3 separate regions of the Homo sapiens genome follow, and all the other regions are linked to region 3. The links come from fine-mapping of genetic effects on gene expression. A gene starts in region 3. Each other region holds a variant in brackets. All regions are shown on one strand. Distances are from middle to middle.

Region 1 (8,172 bases), 32 kb after region 3:
AAGGACATCTCTAGGTGCATGGCCCGGTCCCGACCAACACTCAGCCCAGGAGGTCTGTCCACAGCAGGACGGTCCCTGGTCACATGCTCCGGAGCCTCCCCACCATCTGGGTCCCCTCAGCCCCTGCGCAAGACTCTGGCTCTACACCAAGGCCAGGCCACAGGCAGCTGCATCCTTGGCCCTGGCAGCATCTGGCCAGATGCACTTGATTCTGACTTGTGCCCAACACCCAACAGAAGCTGGGCCCTGGAGGGCGCCGCACAGTCCAGGGGATGGCGTGGGCCAAGGCCCCCAAGAGCCCGGGCACCTTCCAGAGCAGCTGCTGTGGCACCCAGGCCAGGCCACCTCTCCCCACCAGCCAGGAAGACCCCAAGGGAGGGGAGAGGAGGGGATCCACAACCCCCCACGACCAAGAATGACGCCATGGGGGATGACATCATGGGCGAGACATCACAGAGGATGATGTCAGAGGGGTGACATCGTGGGAAATTGACATCACATGGGGAATGACATCATGGGGGAGACATCACGGGAATGATATCACGGGATGATGTCACATGAATGACATCACAGGGGGGACATCATGGGAGACTGGCATCACATGGGGGGATGACATCACCGGGGGATGACATCACAGGGGCATGACATTGCAGGGGAATTGCATCATGGGGGGTGACATCACGGAATGACATCACAGAGATGACATCACACTGGCATCATGAGGGAATGACATCACAGGGGATGACATTACGGGGATGACATCAAAGGGAGTATTGACATTACAGGGGATGACATTGTGGGAAATTGACATCATGGGGGACTGACATCATGGGGGGATGGCATCATGGGGGGAATGACACCATGGGGATGACATTAAAAGAGGTATTGACATCACAGAGGTGATACCACAGGGGATGACATCATGTGGTGACAGCACGGGAATGACGTCACATGTATGACATCACAGGGGAATGATGTCATGGGGGAATGACATCACGGGGGAATGACATCACAGGGCCTCCTGGGCCCTCCTAGGGCAGATGTGGGCTTGAAGCCACAGTGCTGGGCTCAGACGCCAGCCCACAGATCCCCAGTAATATGACCTTGGGCTCCCCTCTTGGGGCCTCAGTTTCCTCATGTGCACAGGTGATGAGTATAGGACCAGCTTCATTCTGTGCTGATGAGGTGGGATGGGACAGGGTGGCACTGCCCCACACCCAACAGGCAGACAGGAAATATCACCACCTTGGGCAGCCATGGCAGAGCCCCTGGGGCTGCCAACCCCAGGAGCCAGACCCCAGGCCCCTCTGCAGATGCTGATACACACAGGTGGCCCAGAAATGGCCATTTGCACCTGCATCCTCAGGACAGCACCCAGCCCTCCCCCCTGCTGGCTACAGGCAGCTCACGTGACCCCCATGCAGACCCAGGGTCTCCACCTGAGCTACTTCTTCCCTGGGGTTAAAGGGGAGCTAGATGGGCGGAACAGGCTCAAGGAGCCCTGACCCCATCCCCTGGCTGAGGGCCCCCACGATTTCCTGGTGGTCCCAAGGTCTCTATGGTCAGCTGACCTTGTAGGACCCCTTTCACACCTGGACTGCATGGTTCTCTCAGACCCTGGGGACCTCCTGTTTGCCACTGGAGGATGGCACAGTGCCCAGGCCCATGGGAGCAGTGCCCTCGCTCACCCAGGGGTCAGGGACCCACAGGCCCTTGACAGAGGTCGTCAGAGCCAAAATGCAGCCAAAGGGCTTCCCTGTGGCACAAACCCCAAAAGCGCTGCTCAGCCAGTTGGAGGTCCCCCTTCCTCTGCCATCTGCATGCAGGCAAGGCCTCACCAGGGCCAGTGGTGCTTCAGGGCACACCCCATGCACCCCGCGTGCTCGGCCCCTAACCTCCCGAATCAAACATGGGTCTGAGAGGGACTGGCACGTTGTCCAAGGCCGCACAGCTGTTAAGCATGAAGCCAGGACTCGAACCCTCCACCCAGGCTGGATTTGAAGTCCCTCACCTGCTACTGCTGTCAGACCTCAAACGGTGGCCAATCAATCCCCAGAGTCGGGCCCACATTCAGAACAAGGCTGCTTAGATCTAAAAGTAACTCAAATGATAACCACCACAGAAAACAAAAATTCCAACTAGCCAGAGATTCCAGAACATCTTCCTTGCTCCTGTGTTTTAGATACCTAAGCAGACGTATTTACAAAGATGTTTTCTGCCACTTTCCTCACCTCAAAGAACGAGTCAGCTGCAGTCCTGTACTGCTGCCCAGGAGACTGGGGAAGAGGGGCCCGAAGCTCCTTGGACATGTGGATGGTGACTCCACCCCCCCAGGACTGCACACTGTTGGCCTGGTTGGGGGTGTGGGGCTCGGGCAGAGAGGAGCCATCTCTGCTTCCTGGGCTGTTATCAATGGACTGTCAACATGTGGCATAGAGACATGGGCGCTACAGGCGGGAGGGCCACGGCACACACCAACCCACCCACAGAACAGAGTGGACACACCCTGGTCAGATGGGGCAGGAGGGGATCCTTGTAGCAAGGAGAGAACAAAGTCTCAAAGTGGGGGCGCTGCCTCTGCCGGGCCCAAGAGGTGGGCAGGGGCAGGGAGAGGACACCTCAGGCAGGAGAGCATGGGAATGGCAGGGCACTGTGCAGGGCCGAGTTAGAGGGAGCGGCTGGACCACATCTGTGAGAGGCCCCTGCCCGGCACTTACACCCGAGTGAGCCCGTTTTTGCCTTAAGAATGCCCCATGAGGGGTGGGAACAATGCGCAGTCCCTTCCTCCAGGTGCCAGCACCAAGGCCCAGGGCCTCATCTGACAGCAGCAGGAAGGGTCAGGGCCAGGTCTGTCTTACGCAGCATCACACTGGGCCTCGTCTGAAGGGCCAAAATGGAGGGAGAGAAGTCAGGGATGAGGCTGCGGCTGCAACGTCCCGGGCACCGCTGAGGCTGTCTCTTCCCAGAGGAGGTGCCCCATGGGCAGAGGTGCCAACAGGCCACACTGCCCTCGGGCCGCAGAGCAGGGAGCCGGCAGGAACGACCTGACCACCTGCGCGGCCTGGTCAGGCCAGAAGCTCCTGCACAGGTGTAACTGCTGCCCCACCAGCCCTCCTGCCACCCACCTGAGACTCCAGAAGGTGGCTGCACACCTTGTCAGGCCAGTCCCCCAGAACATATCTAACACCCACACAGAGAACATAAAAGCTGAGTCTTGCTGTACTGGCTGCAGCCCCAACCTGACGTGAGGCAGGACTCGGCGGTGGCGGAAACCTTTTGCATGAGGGCCTCAGTCTGACACCCAAGCAGGTTTCCCAGCCTGTGAGGCATCATCGTACGGGCACAGGCCCATGGGTCAGCTGGCCCTGCAGGCCCAAAGGCTCAGACCTGGGGCACCACCCGAGGCTTCCCTGCCAGCACTGGTGGCATCTGGTATCTGGATGACAAGCTCTCGAGTTACTGAGGACCCAGCCAATTCCAGAGGCCCATGGAGTTGTCCCCCACAGCCCCAGTGCCAGGGAGAACACACAAAGCTCAGCATGGCCACTCCCCTCTTCTCACCAGAGTCAGGGACTGTCTAAGTCAGCCCCCAGCTTGGCTGGTGCCCACCCTGAGCCATGTGTTCTGCTGGGGTCAGGAAAAGCGTTCTAGCAGGAACAGAGGGTGGAACCTGCTGCATTCCTGACACTGGCTGGCTCGAGACAGCCAATCAACGTGGTCACCAAGGAAAGCTAGTAGAATATGGTAGACTGAACCCAAGCTGGGGTGATGGCCAGCATGGGCCCAACCAGGGACACGCAGAAGGCAGCATGTGGGGGCCCACACCATCTGTGCCCAGATTCTCCAGGGAGCAGAGCAGGCCAGAGCCCAGGTCTCCAGGTCTGTGTTGACCTTCCAGGGGCACCACTCACAGCCGAGAGCCACCCGCCGGAGGTGTTCTTCGCAGCATTCAGGGAGGCCTGTGCCCACAGCACTCCTCGCTCAGCTGCTCTGTTCCCAGGGAAGTCACTGAACAGAGCCCCCAGGCCAGGGAGGGCCACCAGCCAGGGCAGCCCCAGCGCCTTCGGTCTCCATTACACCTGTTCAGCTCCCTGCCTCTGGCCGCCCAGAGCAGAACTCCACTCTGCACAGTGCAGGCCGGTTTGAACCAGCTAGGCTCAGAGGCCTGGTCACCAGGAGCTCCGGTCAGAAGCAGAGCCATCACTCTGTGCCGGGCCAGTCTAGATGGGGGATGCAGTGCACCAGGGACCAGTACCATGTGGCCCATCACCACCAGGTCCAGCTACAGCTCCAGCCCACCCACCAATGGGGAGACAAGGAGACTTCCCTGTTCCCCCGTGGCCTCACACCATTGGCTTGGCTTGTTGGAGTCTCCCTCGAGATCCAAGAAAAAGTTCTGGCCAAGCGCAGTGGCTCATGCCTGTAATCTCAGCACTTCAGAAGGCCGAGGCAGGCGGATCACCCAACGTCAGGAGTTCGAGACCAGCCTGGCCAACATGGCGAAACCCCGTCTCTACTAAAAAATACAAAAACAGCCGGGCATGGTGGCAGGCGCCTGTAATCCCAGCTACTCGGGAGGCTGAGGTAGGGAGAATTGCTTGAACTCGGGAGGCGGAGGTTGCAGTGAGCAGAGATCGTGGCACTTCACTCCAGCCTGGGTGACAGAGTGAGACTC[C/T]GTCTCAAAAAAAAGGAGAGTTCTTCCGCCTGGGAGGATCGAAGGTTGTGAGCCAGGAAAAAGGAGCTGGAGAGTGGGCACATCTTGGAAGCTGAGGCACTGCCAAAGCCAAGGAGTAACTGCTAACTCTGGGAGCCAGTGGCTCTGAAAAGTGCTCCCCTAGCTGGCCCTGGTGCCTGACACCCAGGAGGGTGGGTTAGAGCCAGTGCCCTCTCCCCACCCAGGCACACTGGGGTCCTCCCGACAAGGTCATGCCACAGCAAGAAGGACTTGGAGATCCAGAGTTTGGAGAAATGGCAACCTAGACTAGCCCTACACCACCTGCTACAAAAGTAGCTCCTCATCCAGGCCCCCAATTCAAACACAAGCAGGGAAACAAGGCCCCATTAGCTACTTCCAGCTCCTGTAAGTGTAAAGAAAGCTGACAGAGAACCTGCTTCATTTCTCACAGGGACTGGGGAGTTGAAAGAGAGGGAAAGACACAGGGAAGGTGGGGACACTGTACTCTGCCTCTGGGTGTCAACCAGTTTGTCCCTGCTGCTACCTGGGAAAGGGCATGTCAAACCCACCTGGGCCAGGTACCCTAACAGCCCTAGGCTGCTTAAGGGCTGAGTCCCACTGCCATGCGGATGTGAAGATGGGGGAGGAGGGGTGGGCCGGCTCCTGGAGCACTGGCTGCCTAGGAAGCCTGGCCTGGCCTGGGTGAGGTGGGCAGGAGCCTAGCGTGGGGCATGGCAAGTCCAGTTGGATGTGGGGTTTGGCTGGGACTGGAGAAGGTACCCAAACTGTGGGGCTTGTTGCAAATGGTTCATCCCGACAAACAGCAATCCCCTCTCCTTACTGTTCTTCAGGATGAACTGGAAATGGACCAAGAGAAAGGATTCTTCCACCCAGGAGGGTAGAAAAGGAGGCGTCCATAGGATGTTCAGGAGTGGAGGGACAAACTCGGGGGTGTGGCTGCCGGAAGAATGGGGAAGGAGCTCTCGAGCACAGGACTCTGAGCCCAGGGAGCTTGGGACCGGGTGGGTTGCGGGGAGCAGTTGCGGGCTAAGGATCAGTTTGAGGCTGTGGGTTGGGAGAGTGTTCAGGGGACCGTGGGGAAGTCTAGAAAAAAGAAGGGAGAGGTAAGCGGAAGACAAGCGATTCAGATCGGGAAGTACCGTGGATCAGAAAACAGAAAAGGGGGGTCCCGAGCGGAAAATAAAGCCCTGAGAGAAAGACAACGAGGAGCTTCGGAGCAGCCGCTGGAGCCCCGCTGGGCGAGGAAGTGGCTGTAAGGGCCAGAGAGGGTTCCCGGCCGCCGGGCCCCGCAGGCCTGGCCTCCGAGGAGACGCGGATCCTGGGGCCCCGCGGCGGGGGCTGCAGCCCCGGGCTGGGCCGGGTCGGGGTCGGCCGGCGGCCCTACCTGGTACACGGAGGCCTTGGGCAGGTCCAGGCACACGGTGCAGCACAGCACCGAGTAGAGCCGCTCCTCCAGTTTCCCGCTGCCGGCCGCCGCCGCCGCCGCCGCCGCCTCGGCCGCCTCGGCTGCCCGCAGCCGCTTCTTGGGCGGCGCGTCGGGGTCGCCGGCCGCCTCCTGCAGCTGTAGCTGCCGGGCGCCCGCCAAGCCCGCCTCGTCCGGGAGCCCAGGCCCCGCCGCCTCGCCCAGAGCCGCCGCCGCCGCCTGCCCGGCGGCCGCCCCGGGCCCGGCTCCGACCCCGACCCCGACCCCGGCCGGCACGGAGCCCGCGGGCCCCGCGGCCGGGCCGCCCCCGCCGGCCTCCTCGGCGCCGGACATAGCGGCCGGCCGGCCCGGCGGGCGGATGCCGGCGCGCTCCCCCGACTAGAAGTTAGGGGCGCCGCGCGCTCCCGCCGCTCTCCTGCCGCCGCCGCCGCGAACCCGCAGCCCCGCTCCCTGCGCCGCCGCCTCAGTGGGCCCGGCCCGCGCGTAGCCCCACAGCCGCCGCGGCCACCGACCCCGGCACGGCCGCCATCTTTGTTTTCGCTGTGCGCTTCCCCCCGCCCCGCCGCCACCACCCCCTCGTCTTCCCCGTCACGTGAGCCCCACGCGGGGCCAATGGGAGCGCCGCTTGGGGCAAGAAAGCGCAGGGACTAGAGCCAATGGGAGAGCGAGGGCCCCCGAAGGCCCGCCCCTGCAGAAGGTGGGCGGGGAGGGGGCGCGGCCTGCGAGAGTCGCGGAGGGACTCGCACCTGGGGGCAGGGAGGCCCACGCGAGCTGTGGCGCCGGCGCGGCACCCACGCTCCACGAGCCAGTGGCGGCCGCCGACCCCTACGGCGGGGTGTGCCTGTGTCTCTGTCCCCCAAGACTCAGGCTTGTGTTAGGGGCTCTCGCCCCCTTCCCCGCAGGGGAAGGACACAAGTGAAAAATCCCGCCGGCCACCCCTCTCTGTCGGGTGCGGGACCCCTTAGGTCTCCACAGGAGCAAGCGGAGAGACTTCCAGGAGAGGGGACTCCAGACCCCTAACCCACCGGAATCTAATCCTCTGCTCGTCCGAACCCCCTCTAACCCTGGGGTTGGAGACTGAAGGGGTCCACTGAGGAAAACGAAGGTATTAGGGAATAGGGCTGGCTTCCACAGGCCGGAGGTACACAGGAGGGCGAATCAGCTCTGGGAAGGATGTGCGTTTCTCGAAACGCCTGTGGTACAGCCCTCCCCTGCCTCCACCCTACTCTTCAGTTCTTGAAGGTCACTGCCCCAGAGGGCCACCTGCCAGGCCAGGCCAGGATATCTGGAACTCCACCATGTCCCTGGAGAGTAAGGGCCCAGGGCTATGTCTTCTCAGCCCAGGGGTCTTCCTGACAATAGTCAAAAGGAGGCCGGGCTGCATGAGACCCCATCCTAGTTCCAGCACATACCCTGTCAGGGTAACTGACTACTGTCCTGAGGGGCCTTAGGAAGCTCACTGAAAGATCCCTCAATCCCTCTCAAAAATGGGCAGTTTTCATATTCCTGCAAAATTCCTAAGATTTATTGGAGACTAGGCCTCTTCTCTGGATCCACAACCGTGTCCAGCCCAGAATCAGGACCCCCAAACGTGTCTGGGACCCTGTCCCTTTCATTCTGGTCTAGACAAGTCCCCACACGTGGCCAAAGGACAGCACCCAGACTCTGCCCCTGACCAGTCAATGTGCAGCAAACCCACTTCAGTAGGCAGAAGAGTCTACCCCTAGGGAGAAGGCGCCAGGAGCAGGCAGGTGGGAGGGAAAGTGTTCGGCAGGGCAGAAACCCTGCCTGGCTGTATCCAACTGTCACTCCCACTGGAGGCGCTGTGTATGCAGGGCCCGGCAGTAAGCCCAGCTGCCTACAGCCAAGGCCCAGCGACAGACATCCTCCTTCGGTAGCAGCAGCAGCCTGTCCTCCTCCAGCCGGCTCAGGAGGCCTGCCACACCCAGCATCGCCCCCCCCCACATCCCATAAGTGTTGGCCGTGAAGACAGCTACAATGAGGATGGTCACTGCGACCACCAACAGCATTGCCTGACCAGCCACAGAGCGGC
Region 2 (8,172 bases), 150 kb after region 3:
ACTGCACACAACTCCTAACTTGACAACCCTGTACACTTCGGCCACACTCAATTCATTTAAAACTTCTTCTTTCATCAGTAATAAATTTAGTTTACTGTAACTTTTTTACTTTATAACCTTTTTAGTTTCTTTAAACTTTTTGAGTCTTTTAGAACACTTTGCTTAACATACACATTGTACAACTATACAAAATATTTTCTTTCTTTACATTCTTATTCTATAAGCTTTTTTAATTTAAAATTTCTTAAACTGACTTTTTGTTACAAACTACGACACAAACACACACACTAGCCTAGGCCTACCCATGCTCAGGATCATCAACACCACCGTCTTCCCATTGCCACATGGTGTCCTGGGAGAAAGCAACACACGTGGAGCCATCACCTCCTGAGACAACAGCGCCGCCTTCTGGACACCTCCAGAAGGACCCACCTGAGGGTGTTTCCAGCTAACATTTTTTTTTTAAGTGCACGCTAAATGATAAAAACTATGGTATAGTGAATACACAAACCAGCGACATAGTCACGTATCATCATCATGGTCAAGCACTATGCACGGTTCATAACCACACGTGCTGCTCCTCTGTAGGACCGCAGTGCAGCAGGTCTGTCTACGCCAGCATCACCACAGACTTGCGAGTACGGTGTTGCACACAACCATGGTAGGTCATAGAACCTTTTCAGCTCCATTATAATCTATGAGACCACTCTCATATATGCAGTGTGCTGCTGATGGAAATGTTACGTGGCACGTGACTGTATTATAAAGACATCTATCTACCCAAACTAATCCATAATTCAACGCAATTCTAGTCAAAATCCCAACAGAGTGGCCGGGCATGGTGGCTCACGCCTGTAATCCAGCACTTTGGGAGGGTGAGGTGGGCAGATCATGAGGTTAAGAGATCGAGACCAGCCCAGCCACCAACATGGTGAAACCGTGTCTCTACTAAAAATACAAAAATTAGCCAGGTGTGGTGGTGGGCGCCTGAAGTCCCAGCTACTCGGGAGGCTGAGGCAGGAAAATTGCTTGAACCTGGGAGGCGGAGGTTGCAGTGAGCCGAGATTGCACCACTGCACTCCAGCCTGGGCGACAGAGTGAGACTCCGTCTCAAAAAAAAAAAAAAAAAAAAAAAAAGAACGAAAAAAAACCTCCCACAGAGCTTCTCATGGAAGTCCTGGCCCCAATAGCCCCACATCACCCCAGCATTCCTGAGACATTTTTGAGAAGAGATGGACACTCCAGTCCCCAGAGAGTGGGCCCTGAGCCATGGGTGACAGGGCAGGGCTAAGGCCAGACCCACGGCCTCTCTGGGGAAGAACAGCCCCGCAAGTGTGGGTGACTGACACATTTTGAAAAGAGAATCACAAAAAGAAACCAATTCCTCCACCTAATTGCAGAGACGAGTCAAAACGAATAACAAATTCAAAATTATGATAATCCAATACCAATTCTCTGAGAAGTTCTGCGCAGGCCCGAAGCCGTCCATTCTGTTCAGTGAGAGGAAGCCGGAGGTTCCAGCGCAGCAGCACAGCACAGGCTCTTGAGGGAGAGTTATTTTTAAAATGTTAACGCCAAGTCCGCTCGTCCGCTTGTTTCTTAAAATGATTCACGATTCTCAAAATCTGGCTTCGACTTGTGCAAGATGAGCTCCTGCCCGTCTCTGGCTGGGAGAAGTTGTTCTCCAGAGGGACCATAGGATTTAACTGCAGTCAGTATTTACAGCAAACCAACAGGTTTGTTTTTCACTTATGCCATTTAAACCATAAACCAGATGCTGCAGTCACCTTTCCACGGAGCTCCACCTGTACACGCCACGAATGTCTTTTATTCCTTAACCTCTACAACAGTCTAAATTCTGTACCTTTCAGTATCATCTCCTTTGGGAAATGCCGCTGGAGGGCCAAGGACTCCTGGCCTGCTCTGGTGTGTGTTTAACTGCAGGCATGAGATTGCTCACGTGGGTTTCATGGATCATATGAAAGCCCACAGGGAGGTTCCTCTGTTTTTCAAAAGCACACAGATGCTGCTGTGACAACCGGAATACACGCTCAGGGCCGGTTCAACATGAGACCAACCAGTGTAAAACACCACACTGACAGATAGACTGAAGGAGAGAAACCACGTGATCATCTTAACTGATACAGAAAAGGCATTGACAAAATCCACATGATAAAACCACTGGGAACACAAGGAGTATCAAGGAACTTGCTCAATAGAAAAGACTGGAAGCTTTCCCCGAGATCAGGAGCAGAACAAGGATGCCCCTTCACCACTGCCATTCAACACTGCACTGGAAATCCTATGCAGGGCAATCAGTTAAGGAGAAGAAAAAGGCATCCAAATTGGAAAGGAAGATGTTAGACTATCACTAACCACAGATGACATAGTCCTATATATAGAAAATCCCAGAGATTATAAACGAAGGTTACTACAGCTAATACAGAAATTCAGCAAAGTTGCACAATACAAGATCAACACACAATCAGTTATGTTTCCATACACCACAATGGACAATCCAGAAACAAACAAACAAAAAATTCCACTTACAACAGCATCAAAAAGAATAACATATCTAGGAAGAAACTTTACCAGGGAGGTGAAAGGACTGTAAACTAGAAAATATAAAACACTGCTAAGAAAAATCAGACATAAGCAAATGAAAAGACATCCTCTGTTCATGGATTAGAAAATTAATATTGCTTGGATGAAATATCAGCTTACAGATCCAACACAATCCCCCACACAGATCCAAAATTCCAAAAGCTTTTTTTTTGTTGTTGTTAAAAGAAATGAAAAAGCCAATCCCCAAATTCTTGTGGAATTGCAAGGTGCTCCAAATAGCCAAAACAACCTTGAAAAATTAGAATAAAGCTGGAAGACTCACACTTTCCAGTTTCAAAACTTATTACAAAGCTACAGTGATCAAAACAATGTGGTACTGGGATATGGATCAATGCAAATCAATTGAGAGGCCAGAAATGAACCCAAATCTATGACAGGTCAATTTTTGTTTGTTTGTTTTTGAGACAAAGTCTTGCTCTGTCACCCAGGCTGGGGTACAGTGGTGCGATCTCGGCTCACTGCAACCTCCACCTCCTGGCTTCAAGTGATTCTCCTGCCTCAGCCACCCGAGTAGCTGGGATTACAGGTGTGAACAACCACTCCCAGCTAATTTTGGTACTTTTAGTAGAGACAGGGTTCTGCCACGTTGGACAAGCTGGTCTCAAACTCCTGGCCTCAAACTCCTGCCTTCCTTGGCCTTGAAAAGTGCTGGGATTACAGGCGTGTGCCACTTTTCTTGGCCAAAATTAAAAACTTTGTACTTTGGCCATGCACACTTTGGCTCATGTACTTTGGCTCATGTCTGTAATCCCAGTGCTTTGGTAGGCATAGGTGGGCATACTGCCTGGGCTCAGGAGTTGGAGACCAGCCTGGGCAACATAGTGAAACCCCAATCTCTACAAAAAAAATACAAAAATTAGCCTGGTGTGGTGGCACGTGCCTGCAGTCCCAGATACTTGGGGGTCTGAGGTGGGAGGTCACTGGGCCCGGGAGGTGAGGGCTGCAGTGAGATTGCACCACTGCACTCCAGCCCCAGAGACAAAGAGAGACCCTGTCTCAAAAACAAACAAACAAACAAACAAAACAAAAACAACAAAAACCTTTGTTTTTCAAATGATACCATCAAGAAAGTGAAAAAAGGGGCCAGGCGTGGTGGCTCATGCCTGTAATCCCAGCACTTTGGGAGGTGGGTGGATCACGAGGTCAGGAGATCAAGACCATCCTGGCTAACATGGTGAAACCCTGTTTCTACTAAAAACACAAAAAATTAGCTGGGCGTGGTGGCAGGTGCCTGTAGTCCCAGCTACTCGGGAGGCTGAGGCAGGAGAGTGGTGTGAACCCGGGAGGCGGAACTTGCAGTGAGCAGCAATCGTGCCACTGCACTCCAGCCTGGGCGACAGAGCGAGACTCTGTCTCAAAAAAAAAAAAAAAAAAAAAAAAGAAAGTGAAAAAAGGCTCAAAGTCATTAGTCATTAAGGAAATGCAAACCAAAACTACAATGAGACATTTCACAGTGGCTACAATAGCTAAAAGAAATCTAAAAAGGAAAGCAAGTAGTGTTGGCAAGGCCGTGGATAACTTTGAACCCTCATATTTGCTGGTGGGATGTGAAATGTAGGCCCTGGTCCTCTTTGTGCCCGCCTTCTGCACCGCTCGCTCACCCACGCCACGCCCGAGCCTCCGCTGCTCACCCTGCCCTGAATACCGACACCAACACCGTCTTCCCGGTGTGCTCCAGTGGCTCCTCCACACCTGATTTGCCCCACCTCCTGCCCACTCTGCAGCAGGCCCCATCCCTGGCCTCCCTTTCATCCTGCCAGACCGGGTCCACGGGATGAACCTGCTGCCCGCCTCCCTCTGTGCCTGCACCTCGGCACGGTGGGACGGAAGCCTGCTGTCCTCTGAGCTCTGTGGTTCACTCTGAATCCCTCTTCTGAAGCCTCAGATGAGCCCGGCAGTCCAACACGCTCCTTCCCACCTCTGCAGAAAGCCCCTGGGCCTCAGCTCCCCTGGCAACCTCAGCCAAGCACCGAAAATCTGGTACTGGGGGAGACCAATCCCCTGCCTTTCTCTCCCTGGGGTCCAGCCTCTCCTCCATCCTCTCCAGAGTGGCCTCCATCCGCCCCTGCAGTGGCCAGGCCTGTCTGCCCTGGGCCACAGCCTGGGCTCTGGGAAGCCCCAGCCTCCTGTCCCTGCCTCGGCTCTTCCCCACTGTCCTGCTGGCCTGCCGCCTGCCTCAGCCCTTCCCCACTGTCCTGCCCGCCTGCCTCGGCTCTTCCCCACCGTCCTCTCTGGACTCGCTTCCCACGGTGCACTCACCTCGAGGCCCTTGCGCTCTACCCTGACCTCTCCCTGTTTCTGAGGG[C/T]AGGGGTCTCCTGGGCTCCCACCAACACAGGCTGTGCTCCTTCGGAGCCACTGTGACTCCAGAGGACCACCTCCAAGCCTGCTCAGACCCCTCAGCTGTGTCCACACTGATCTACACCCTCCACCTGGGTCCCCCTAGGTCCACACACCCCACGCCCGCACGCAAATCCCCACATCTGCATCTCCCATCAGCAGAGAGAGCTGGGCGAGCCCCTCAGACACTGCTCTCAGGAACCACCACCTGCCAGGGGCTGGGCCAGTGAGGGGCAGGGTTGGAGGACCCAGAACCCTCTGAGGCTGAGCGCCAGGCTCTGCTGCCCAGAGAGACAAGAAAGTGCTCACTGGGGACAGCAGCGGTGGCTGCTACAGCCAAGGACGAGGCTCTGGCCACTCGCGGGGACACTGAGTCCCCTGGGTCCCCGCCCACCGCCCTCACCTGGCCCTGCCCACCATACCTGACCTACTCCTCACCTGGCCCCGCCCACCACCGTCACCAGTCCCGCTCTCACGTGGCCCCGCCCATTCCACTCACCTGGCCCCGCCCACCATACCCGACCTACTCCTAACCTGGCCCCGCCCACCACCTTCACCAGTCCCGCTCTCACCTGGCCCCGCCCACCACCCCCTACCTGCCTCACCTGGCCCCGCCCACTCCATTCACCTGGCCCCGCCCATAGCAGCTGCCCCCGCCCTCACCTGCCGCTGTCCTCCTTCACTGTCCCAAACGCCGCGGGCCGCCCGGCCCTCGCTGGCAACTCCTGCGCTTTCTCAGTGTCGGGCTCGGGCTCCAGGGAGGAGCTGGTGCTGCCCTCACGGCTGACGCTGCTGCCGCGCCCGGGGCTGCTCTCCGCCGAGGCGCGCGGGGACTCCGTGTTCTGCTTCAGCGTCTGCAGCTTGGCCAGCGGGATGATGTCGCAGCCCTGCGGCCGGTGCCACACCGTGCGCTGCGTGCTGGCATTGTAGTAGTAGAAGCGGGACGTGTTGGGGTCGAACAGCTCCCACCACTGGTTCTCGCTGGTGCGCTTGATGCGGACGCCGGCCGGCGGGTCCCACACGCACTCACCGGTGACCAGGTTGGCGTACATGCGCTCGCGGGTGCGCGGTTCGATGATCTCCACCCACTCCAACCTGGGGAGAGACAGGGTTAAGGCGGCTGGAGCCACGGCGGCCTGGGCCCGCGCCTCCCACCCCTGCAGACCCCGGCTCCAGCCCCAGCTGCGAAACCCAGAAATCCTGTCATAGAGGAAAGCAAACCCAAGCCCAGTCCGCCCCTGACTGCTGTGCTCCTGAGCACCCGCAACCGGGGAAGCCCCCGGAGCCGCCAGCGCCTCAGGGTGGTGCAGCCCTTTGGGGGGTCCTGGGCCCCACGTGGGGTAGGGACATACTGGCTGTGGTTGCAGGCTCCTGTCCTCACAGGCACCCAGGCCACAACCTCACTGCCCACTGCTCCGTCCTGCAGGATCGTGGCACAGGCCTGCGAGTCATCACTGCACACCTGCTCAGTAGCCCCTCCGCTGCAACTGGACCGCCACCTCCACACTGGGTCGGGGTCTGGAGGGGCCTCAGGCCCAGCTAAGTGCTGCTGGACTCCCAAGCTGTGTTCTCCCAAGGATCCCCCAGATCAGCAAGGCCAAGGGCCCAGCTGGCTCTCAGACCCCCGATGGGGGGCAGAGTCTCCACCCGGCCCTCAGACCCCCGCTGGGGGCACAGCCTCCAGCTCAGTAACGTTTCTGAGGCCTCTTCCATGTTTCTACACGGAAACAAAAACCCTTAGAGGCACCAAGAGCCTCTCAGCAAAGATGCTGCCAGGAGGCGTTCCCATGGACCCATGCATCCGTCTCTTAACCCTGCGACAGGCCTGGTCCTCGCCATCACCGGGCTGGTGAGGTGTCTCGTTAGCCCTGCGACAGGCCTGGTCCTCGCCATCACCGGGCTGGTGAGGGGTCTCGTTTCCAGGGAAAATGCACTAATCCCAGGGGCTCAACAGAAGGGGAGGCAAGTGGTGAGGGCAGAAGGGCCAGCGGACACCAGGCCCAGACACGGGCTAGTGGGGGCTGCCTGCGGCTCCCCCAGGTCAAGGACAGAAAGAGCCCCCCTGGCGGCCGGCGCAGACTGGCTGCGGGGGCGACCTTCATCCCACGTCCCACCCTTTGAAACCAGGCCAGGGACACGGCGGCTCTGAAAACAGGCTGTGATGCGCACCACACCTGCTCGTAGGACACCAAGGATCCAGGCGGAGTCTGTCCCCGCCACCCCCAGAGGCCAGCTGGGGAAGCCGGGCCCTCACACAGTGGCGGCGGCCCCAGCAGCAGCCCTGGGGGTTCTGGGTCTGTTTCTTGCTGATGCAGATGAGCAGCTGAGAAACAGGCCTTGCCACCCAAGCCCTCCTTCAGGCCCTGGCCACTGGGCACTGTTTGCTCCTCTGTGTTTGGATGCCACAGGCAGAAGGCACCGAGGGACAGTCCACGTGGGGCCATGAGGTGGGCGTGCTCAGGGCCTTACGTGGGGAAGGAGCTGGCTCAGGGGTCTGGCTGCAGGAGGAGGATGAGGCGGGTGGGACTGGGCCTGAGTGCAGACACCACAGTGGTGCACTCAGAAGTCCAATGAAGGAGGGCCAGTGAGAGAAGGGGCACCCTGGGGATGGGCTGGTGGTGGAGGGCTGCAGGGGAAGGCAGATGAGAACTCCTGAGGCCCGCCTGTGGATGTTTCACCGTCATCCCCGTGGGAAGGCGAGGTGGTGGGGGTCCTGTTGTTTTGCTCAGCTTGAGTACATCTGCCAACAACTCCCCCCAAACAAATGCCTCGGCTTGCTCGGCTCAGACCCTCCACAGGCCCCAGACTCTGAACTTCCACCTGCATGTCTCGCCACACCCTTGGCGTACACACCCACTCCACCGTCCACCGTCCAGCAAACCACACGCAACAGGGGCCACCCCCGCTCTGGTCCGTGCTTTCCCTTCTCAGCCCGGGGTCTCGCCAGGCACCAATAGCTGCCCAGCCCCTCCCTCCCAGCCCACAGTGGGTCCCCCAGTCGCTCCTGACGAACAAATCTAGGCAGCACCTTTCAGTCCCGAGGGAGCTGTGCCACTTTTGATACCACTGATCATGTTCTCTTCCTTTTATTTTTAAAGTTTTAACTTTTTGTTTTATAATTTCATATTTTCAAAAAGGTTAACAGCCTTCACCCAGATTCACCGCGTGTCACCTCCCTGAAACCGCAACAGGAAGTGGCGCACGCATTGT
Region 3 (8,166 bases):
AACAGCATCTGACGCACCTGTGAGTCGTCCAGCTCATCTGACGCCGACATGCCGCTCAGGGTCTGCAGCCTGGGAGTGCAGCACAGGGCATGTGGGGGCTGAGGGCCTCAGGGGCACTGCGGGGCTCCGCCTGGCTGGGAGGGTCTCGGGCACTGCGGGGCTCTGCCTGGCTGGGAGGGACACCCACCACTGGCTGACCGTCTGGCGGCCCTCAAAGTCGGGTGGGAGGTGGCTCATGCGGTGCATGGTCTCCATCAGCTCTCGCAGGTCGGGCTGGATCTGAGACACACACAGCGGCTGGGACCCCGACGCCGGCTCCATCCCCTCCTGCCTAGGCCCCCTGCCAGCCCAATACCCGCACCTCATCCATGGCGCGGATCTCCAGACGCAGCTTGTCCATGACCGTGATGAAGAGCTGGGGGCAGGTGTGCACATGAGGCTCGCGTGTCCACGGGTGCGGGAGGCCCCACGGCTCACGGGCCCCAACCCCTCCTCAGCCACAGCTGTCACTTGGGCCTCCTCACTGTACTCTGTTCCCAAACCCTGCAGGCCTCCTGGGTGAACGAGGTCCTGGCTGCCCAGACAGCTGTGTGGGAACTGAAGGGTGGGCCCACACCCACACTCTCTCCCGAGGCCAGGACCCCGCCAGAACGCACCCTGTGCTCATCCCCCCGACAGGAGTCCAGGTGGCCTGGGGGCGTCCCCGCATGCTGCCCACCCCTCATTCCTAGTTAAAGGGGTTCCCTTCTGCCCAGCAAGTCAGAGTGCTGCTCAGCTCTGGAGGCCCAGGACCCTACGCTCGTGCCCAGCTGCAGCAGGCAGCCTCGGCTCTCCTAACCACGTGCCCTGGGGGCTGGGGCGCACCGAGACCACGTCTGCGATGCAGCGGTTGAGGTTGCCCTTGTCGTCCTTGATGGTGATGGGCCGGTCCTCCTTGATCCGCTCCATGGCCAGCGGGCAGTCCAGCTGTTGGGGGTGACATGGGTGCTGGGGCTCTCAGGACAGCAAGCCCCAGGTGGCCAGAGCCCTCTGGCACCCCATACCCATGCCCGACAGTCTCGCCCCATGGGGGTGGAAGGACCAGGCACTCACGCGGAACTTGCGGCAGAATTCGTCAATAGAGCTGATTTCTGAGCCCTGGACCTGCCTGAAGGCAGCTTTGTATTGGACCAGGAGCCGGGAGCAGGCTGCAGTGTACCTAGGGAGAGGTCAGCTGCTGCCCAAGCATGGGACCAGCCCCACCCAGCTCATCCTACCCCCTCGGCTGGTCCAGAGGCAAAGCAGCTTCCAGAGAGGACCAGGCGACAGGCAAAGGCAGGCCGAGCAAGGAGGAGGGGCTGCTAGTAGCTTTTGGGGGTGAGGCCCTGAGCACGTAGTGGGGCTTGTAGCTCGGCTCCAGGTGGAGACCCCGGCCCCCAACCCCTGCCCACCCTCTGAACCACAGCGACCAGCCCTCTGTTGTGATGGCCGCATCCACAGCTCATGGTCCTGTGCGGTGGCCTGTGACGGTCTTGTCACTTCATTGAACAAAGCCCCCCCAAAAGATCCTGGGACATCCCCAAGCCTCTCGACCGTTTTTTAAGGTTGCCTGTGCTGGGGGATGAGGGTGGGGGAGTGGGCCGGATGACACCCCAGGAGCTGCGCCTCTGCCCGCCTCCCTCACCAGCCCCCAGGACTTCCCTGGCTGAGACCCAGGGGCACCCTCCTCACGCTGGGTGGGCCCCACACAAGTGGGTGCCTCCCAGCCTGACAGACGCCTGCTCTTGCTGCCTATGGAGCACCCAAGCCCCCCAGGGCAGGAACAGACCTCCCAGGACGTGGGCTCTTACTCGCTGGGGGAGACACAGTCCTTGATGTAGGCCTTCTCCAGGGCTTGCATTGTCTTCACCACCGCAAACAGCTCTGCCATGTTGTCGTACCTGAGGACACACCTGTCTATCGGGCCAGGCCCCGGGGTGCCAAGCCTAGAGCCCAGAGTGCTACCCCCTGCCCGGAGGTGCCACTGCGGGCGCTCTGCCCACCTCTTGCTCCATCCTGGAGTGCCTCAGGAACAGTTCCCCAGACTGACCCTGCGTCCTCCCACCCCTCAGTTTGGGGTGGGTCTGGAGGGGCTGCCCCAGGGCAGCCAGATGCGCATGGGTGTGTTGGGACAGCCTGGGCGCCTGGACTTACTTCTCCCTCTCCCGGGCGTTCTTGTACAACTTCACTTCCTGCCGGAGAGAGCGGGCTCTGTGGGCCAGTGCCAACAGGGGCTGCAGGACCCTGGTGAGGCCACACAGGCATTTGCTGTTGGCCAATGCCGGCCGGGTGGGCACCCACCACTCACCTCATACAGCTCCGGCTTGTTCCCAGGGGCTGCAAGAGAAGGCAGAGAGCTGGCAGGCTGGCCCCAAAGGGAACCCAAGGGCAGACTCCAGTCCCAGTCTCCATTTCAGTTCCTCCCTGAGGCCTCCCAGGCTGGGTCCCAAAGAGCCCAGAGGGAGCTGGAGCACAGAGGTTCCAACCTCACCCCTATCAGTGTGTGGGGGGACCTGATGATAACACCTCTGAGAAGCCGGGGGCCGCATGACAGGCCCAGCTCCCCAGCTCCACTGCGGCTCCCCGGGGGACCGCATGACAGGCCCAGCTCCCCAGCTCCACTGCGGCTCCCCGGGGGACCGCATGACAGGCCCAGCTCCCCAGCTCCACCATGGCTCCCTGGCGGAGTCACCTGCACAACAGTGGCCACGCCCTGCTCGTGGCTCATGATGCAGTGCCAACAAGGCTCACCACACACAGCCTCTCCCCTGGGATTGGTGACACAGGGTGCCCAGGACCCCCACCGTTCTGGCCACACCGAAGCTCATCATCTCTGCCCAGCAGGACCAAGCCAGTTCTGTCTGGAGGTTTCTGAGCCCTCAGTGCTCCTGCAATGAACTATTTAGCCCCTGGCCACCCCCAAGGCTGTACGAGAGCAGGGTCAGATACCTCCCCACCCCCGATCCCCAATACCCAATACTGCCCGTCAGCCCCTGCAGAAGCGGCTGAAAGCCTGCGCCCTTCCAGCCACACTCACCTCCTATGCCCGGCGTGGCTGGGATCCCATGAAACATCCTCTAGGCTCTGGGGGGGGCACAGCACTGAGACCTGGGGAGCAGAGCCAGGGCCGACTCAAAGATGGCCCCTAAGCCAGGCGCTGGCTCACACCTGTAATCCCAGCACTTTGGGAGGCCGAGGTGAGCGGATCACCTGAGGTCAGGAGTTTGAGACCAGCCTGGCCAACATGGTGAAACCCTGTCTCTACTAAAATTACAAAATTAGCCGGACGTTGTGGCATACGGTTGTAATCCCAGCTACTCAGGAGGCTGAGGCAGGAGAATCGCTTGAACCCAGGAGGTGAAGGTTTCAATGAGCCAAGACCGAGCCACTGCACTCCAGCCTGGGAGACAGAGCAAGACCCTGTCTCAAAACAAACAAACGAACAACAAAAAAAACCGACAAAAAAAGACAGCCCGTAAGTGCCAGGTCCTGGAGACCCAGGGCTCCATGAAGAGCTCTCCTAAGCTCAATAATGGTGAACACACAGGGTGCTATAGGGGCTACCAGAAAAAGTGAGGTACTATGGACACTCAGGAGAGCGGGGCGGGGGCTGCAGTGGAGTGTGGTTCAAGCTGGAGGTTGAGGGAGGTTATGAGGGCGGCAGGCAGCTGTTTGATGGCCCACGAGGAGAGTTTGGGGCACAGGAAACAACACACTTAACAGCCCGCCTTTAAGTAGGCATGAACTTGGAGGAACCAACAAGCTGAAGGTGCAGCTTCTCGAAAGAGGGGGTCCTAGGGAATGAAGATGGAGAGGTGCCCCTAGTTGGGCAGCGAGCTGTGGAGAAACAATGGGAGCGGGGCCCGTGGGAGGGTCCTGCCTAGCACGGAAGCTGGGCCAGCTCCAGACGTTCTCTCTTTGAAAGTGGAGCCGTCAGATCCGCCGAGGGATTTGAGATAGGATTAAAATAAAGGAGTTACGAACGACACCCCTGTTTTTGGCCCAATGGGCCGGGCAGTAAGATAAACTCAGACGGAGAGGGGAGGAGGAGCGGGCCTGGCGGGCAGGCGCAGGAAGCTCTCGGTGGAGAGGCCCGGGAGAGCAGCGCTGAGCCGGCTAACTGGGAGTGGACGGTGCTACCGGGGATGGGAGAAGAGCAGAAGTGAGGGAAGGCCGCCCGCGCCGAAGCCCTGGGGCGCCCCAGCCGAGGAAGAGCCGGGAAAGGGCGTCGCCGCTCATGTAGGTAGGGAACGTCTGGGTCAAGCTCTCCGAGGGTCGAGGCCATTGCGAGCCGCGGGGTGGGGACCGAGGCTGCTCGGCAGCCGTCACGGAGCCGCCAGGCAGGAGAGCGCCGAGGAGCCAACCGCCCCAACCACGCAGGAGCTTCTGCCTAACAGCGAAAGCGGACGTTCTGCGGCCACAAGCAAATGTGCAAAACAACCTCGCAGAGTGGACAACGAGCAAGGAAAGCCAGTTTCTAGAACATGCCAATAACGTGACTTTTGCGGCGCTCAGCCGAAGCTGTGCCGGGGCCTAGGCGCGCCCAGAGGGTGCCAGGCCCTGAGTCGCCTCTCCCCACTCTGCCCCTTCCCCGCCCACCGGCCGGGCCCCGGGTACCTGGACGGCTCGCGGTCGGGAAGATGGCGCCGGGGGCGGGGTGCGCTCGGTCAGCGACTCGGCATTCGCCCCTCATGTCTGCGCCTGCGCGCGTCGGGGCGACCCCCCGCCCCTCCGTCCCCATCGGCAGCTCGGCGCTCAGCCCTCACGCCTGCGCCCGCGCCCGCCCGGACTTCGGGACATTCCCTCCAGCCGCGCAGCCCCCGGGACGTAACCGGCGCAGCAGACTCGAAGCCCGGTCTTACCCCGCCCACCCGCCTGCCAGGCAGCCACGGGGAGGGAGGCAGCAGCTTCATTTATTTTATTTTTTTTTTTTTTTGAGACGGAGTCTCGGTCTGTCGCCCAGGCTGGAGTGCAGTGGTGCGATCTCGGCTCACTGCAAGCTCCGCCTCCCGGGTTCACGCCATTCTCCTGCCTCAGCCTCCGGAGTAGCTGGGACTACAGGCTTCCACCACCACGCCCGGCTAATTTTTGGTATTTTTAGTAGAGACGGGGTTTCACCATGTTAGCCAGGATGGTCTCGATCTCCTGACCTCGTGATCCGCCCGCCTGGGCCTCCCAAAGTGTTGGGATTACAGGCGTGAGCCACCGCGCCCGGCCAGCAGCTTCATTTATTAGGGGCTTCGGTGAGGGTGGGGAAAGGCAGCGCCAGGGTCAGAGGCGCCGAAAGAAGAGCTTGGAGCCGTGGTCCAGCGTGCACTCGCCGGGGCCCGGCCGACTGGGCTGCAGCTGGCGCAGGGCGTCCCTGTCCTCAGCGCAGAGGCGTCTGCTGCACAGCTGCAGTTCCCGGAGCTGCGCGGCTATCTTGTCCCACAGGCCCAGGCCCAGGGGACCCTGGACGGCGCAGCCTGCGGAGGGGAAGAGGGCAGACCTCAGCGCTGCGGGGGCCGGCGGCGTCCTGGTGCCCGCGGCAGGCTCCAGGGAACAAACTCGCTTTCGCTGAGGGCCCCAGGGCTGTAGCGAGGGGCAGTGGGCAGAGCTCCGGAGAGGCCCCATGACTCTCCAGGAAGGGGTGGGATCATCTGCACAGCCAGCGGTCAGACAGGAGGAAGGGTGGCTCCCTTCTTTACCTCTGACAGTGCCCGATCTCAAAGTCCATGCCTACACGTCAGTCTCCCCACCCATAAGAAGGACATAATGGATCTGCTTGCAAATCTGTACATCGTGGGCCTGAGTGGATCAAGAGAACACTAAGCTCAGGAATTCAGGGAGCTGGGTGGGAAGGTACAGATGCCAGGAACTGAGGTGTGGGGAAGGGGTCTCACACCAGCACTCGGGGGCCTTCCTGGAAAAGGCGGCCTGGCCCTGGGAGGTGAAGGGGAGGGGGCACAGGAAGAAAGCAGAGCCCCGCTTCGTGCACATTCACTTAAGCCCTCATCCCCTGGAGGGCACAGCCTGCCCCGGCCCCAGTGGGGCAAGCCAGGTCATCAAAGCCCTTCCTGGGGTTGTCTTCCAGACAGCTCAGGTTGGGGACTGCCCTGATGTGGCTCAAGAGAGAACAAGCTAAATCAGACCACAGCCCTGGGCAGGGTTGTGTCAGAGGAGCCCCTGCCAGGAAGTAGGAGGGTCCCTTGGCAGCTTTCAACACCCTGACCTTGGGATCCCTTTTCCTGCCAGGGACAAGAAGAAAGTCCCTGTGGAACAGGGTCTTGCCTACCATAGTCTGCTCTGAAGGTTGGGTTGGAGAGACCAGAGGCAGATACCCACCTCGCCCCCTAACCCATGGTTTTAGGAGCTGGGATCATGCCCCTTTTCTGTCACTGTCACTCTGCCCCCTGCTGCCCCAGCCTCATGGAGCCCAGCCTTGCTGCCTGGCTGGTAGCAGTGACAGCCCCTTAGGAGGAGGCACCTGGGTCTCAGGCAGGTCCCTGAAAAGGCCGAACATGGCAGGCGTGGCCACCATACCAGCACTCACCTGACAGGCCAAGGAAGCTAAGGCCTTGGGGCCGCTTTTGGAGGGTGGACAGGAGCTCTTCCAAGCTGGCACAGCTGATCTCAGGGTTGGCAGACAGATCCAGTGAGATGAGTGAGGGGCACAGAGAGAGACATCTGAGATAACATGGGAAGAAGTGCAAAGGTTGGCTTCCAGAGAGGCTGTGCCCCAACACTAGGAAAGCTGCCCAGACAAATGCCAGCTCAGGGAGCCTCGGGCCAGACCCAGGGGCTCTGCCTCAGCCTGGCCCAGTAGCAGGTGGCCCTCTAGGGTTGGGGGTCCTTCCCAGGGGTCAGGGCCACAGTGGCCAGCTCTGGGTGTGCCTGGCCCAGCTTGGGCTCCTCTCAACACTCCCCAGAGAGCTGACTGAGGCTCCAGGTCATAAGAGCAGTGCCCTCATGTGGGCCGAGGCACAGGAATGACAAGGACACCCCCGGAGGAGTGCTCTCAAGAGCCACAGGCCCATGCTAAGAAAGAAGCCAGAGGGTAGTCTGCCTTCCAGGGCAGCCTGAGAGGCTGGTGGAAACCGAAGGAGCCAGGTCTTGGGATGTGCTGGGGAGGAGGAGCTGGTACCATTTCTGTGGCCCTTCTCCCATAGGGTCCAGAGCCATGAGATCAGACCCCCAGGTCAGCAGGCAGCAGGGAAAGGGCGTTACCTGCACAGGTCTCTAACAGCCTTGTCCCCCAGGTGGTTTGCAGACAGGGTCAGGTGGGCTAGAGCACAGCCTTCCTGGACATGAGCAGAGGCCCAAGGGGGCCAAACGGAGTGGCGCACCTGCCCTGCCTGCTTCCCAGCAGGTGCACCACACCCAGGGGCCCAGAAGGGAGCAGAGTCCCCCATCAAGTTGGAGATCGGAAGGAAACACCTCTCCTGATGTGGGTCACACTCTGCACGTGATAGTGTGAAAATAATAGGGTCCCAGTTGTGCCTGGAAGACCCCCCAGGAGAGAGCATCAGGGGCCCTAGTGTGCCCCTTGGGACCTTCCTGGCGGGGGGCAAGATCACCCTGAGTCCCGGGTCCTATCTGGTGGGCAGGAATTCACAGCCTGAGACAGGCAGCTGTACAAAAGCATTCCCCCAGCTGTTTTTTTCTTTTTTTGTTTTTTTTTTGAGACAGAGTCTCGCTCTGTCGCCCAGGGTGGAGTGCGGTGGCGCCATCTCGGCTCACTGCAAGCTCCGCCTCCCGGGTTCACGCTGTTCTCCTGCCTGTCTCCCAAGTAGCTGGGACTCCAGGAGCCCGTCACCACGCCCGGCTAATTTTTTGTATTTTTTAGTAGAGATGGTGTTTCACCATGTTAGCCAGGATGGTCTTGATCTCCTGACCTCGTGATCCGCCCGCCTCGGCCTCCCAAAGTGCTGGGATTACAGGCGTAAGCTACCACGCCCAGCCTGTTTTTTTCTTTTTCTTTCTTTTTTTTTTTTTTTGAGACGGAATCTCGCTCTGTCACCCAGGCTGGGTGCAATGGTGCAATCTAGGCTCACTGCAACCTCTGCCTCCCGGGTTCAACCAATTCTCTGCCTCAGCATCCCGAGTAGCTGGGATTACAGGTACCCGCCACCACGCCTGGGTAATTTTTGTATTTTTACTAGAGACAAG

Evidence for each region. PIP is the estimated chance that this variant, and not a neighbour inherited with it, causes the effect.
Region 1: its variant is the best candidate, but not a certain one, in a credible set for the expression of VPS28 in esophagus muscle (GTEx, PIP 0.75).
Region 2: its variant is the best candidate, but not a certain one, in a credible set for the expression of VPS28 in pancreas (GTEx, PIP 0.67).

The regions. Positions count from the first base shown.
Region 1 is chr8:144,456,203-144,464,374 of GRCh38, forward strand. All of the region lies in intron 2 of TMEM276-ZFTRAF1 (TMEM276-ZFTRAF1 readthrough), which reads right to left. It overlaps ZFTRAF1 (zinc finger TRAF-type containing 1), which reads right to left and starts at 6,669. Exons shown (of 4, transcript NM_001330618.2): 1 at 6,081-6,669. The coding sequence starts at 6,452. It overlaps TMEM276 (transmembrane protein 276), which reads right to left. Exons shown (of 3, transcript NM_032687.4): 3 at 7,623-8,172. The coding sequence ends at 7,925. It overlaps MIR10400 (microRNA 10400), which reads right to left and starts at 6,337; the gene lies at 6,283-6,337. RefSeq lists enhancers at 6,240-6,917, 6,918-7,595, 7,690-8,172 and silencers at 6,582-6,881, 6,932-7,051. The variant C/T (reference allele first, on the strand shown) is at 4,676.
Region 2 is chr8:144,575,221-144,583,392 of GRCh38, forward strand. ARHGAP39 (Rho GTPase activating protein 39) reads right to left here. Exons shown (of 12, transcript NM_025251.3): 3 at 5,626-6,057. Among named protein-coding and RNA genes, the nearest start is that of C8orf82, 50 kb to the left of the region's middle. The variant C/T (reference allele first, on the strand shown) is at 4,931.
Region 3 is chr8:144,423,854-144,432,019 of GRCh38, forward strand. VPS28 (VPS28 subunit of ESCRT-I) reads right to left here and starts at 4,695. Exons shown (of 10, transcript NM_016208.4): 1 at 4,636-4,695; 2 at 3,056-3,126; 3 at 2,327-2,355; 4 at 2,173-2,210; 5 at 1,830-1,919; 6 at 1,093-1,198; 7 at 865-966; 8 at 362-415; 9 at 188-279; 10 at 1-69. The coding sequence starts at 3,092. It overlaps TONSL (tonsoku like, DNA repair protein), which reads right to left. Exons shown (of 26, transcript NM_013432.5): 24 at 7,225-7,298; 25 at 6,551-6,684; 26 at 4,922-5,483. The coding sequence ends at 5,290. RefSeq lists an enhancer at 2,027-2,790 and a silencer at 4,521-4,870.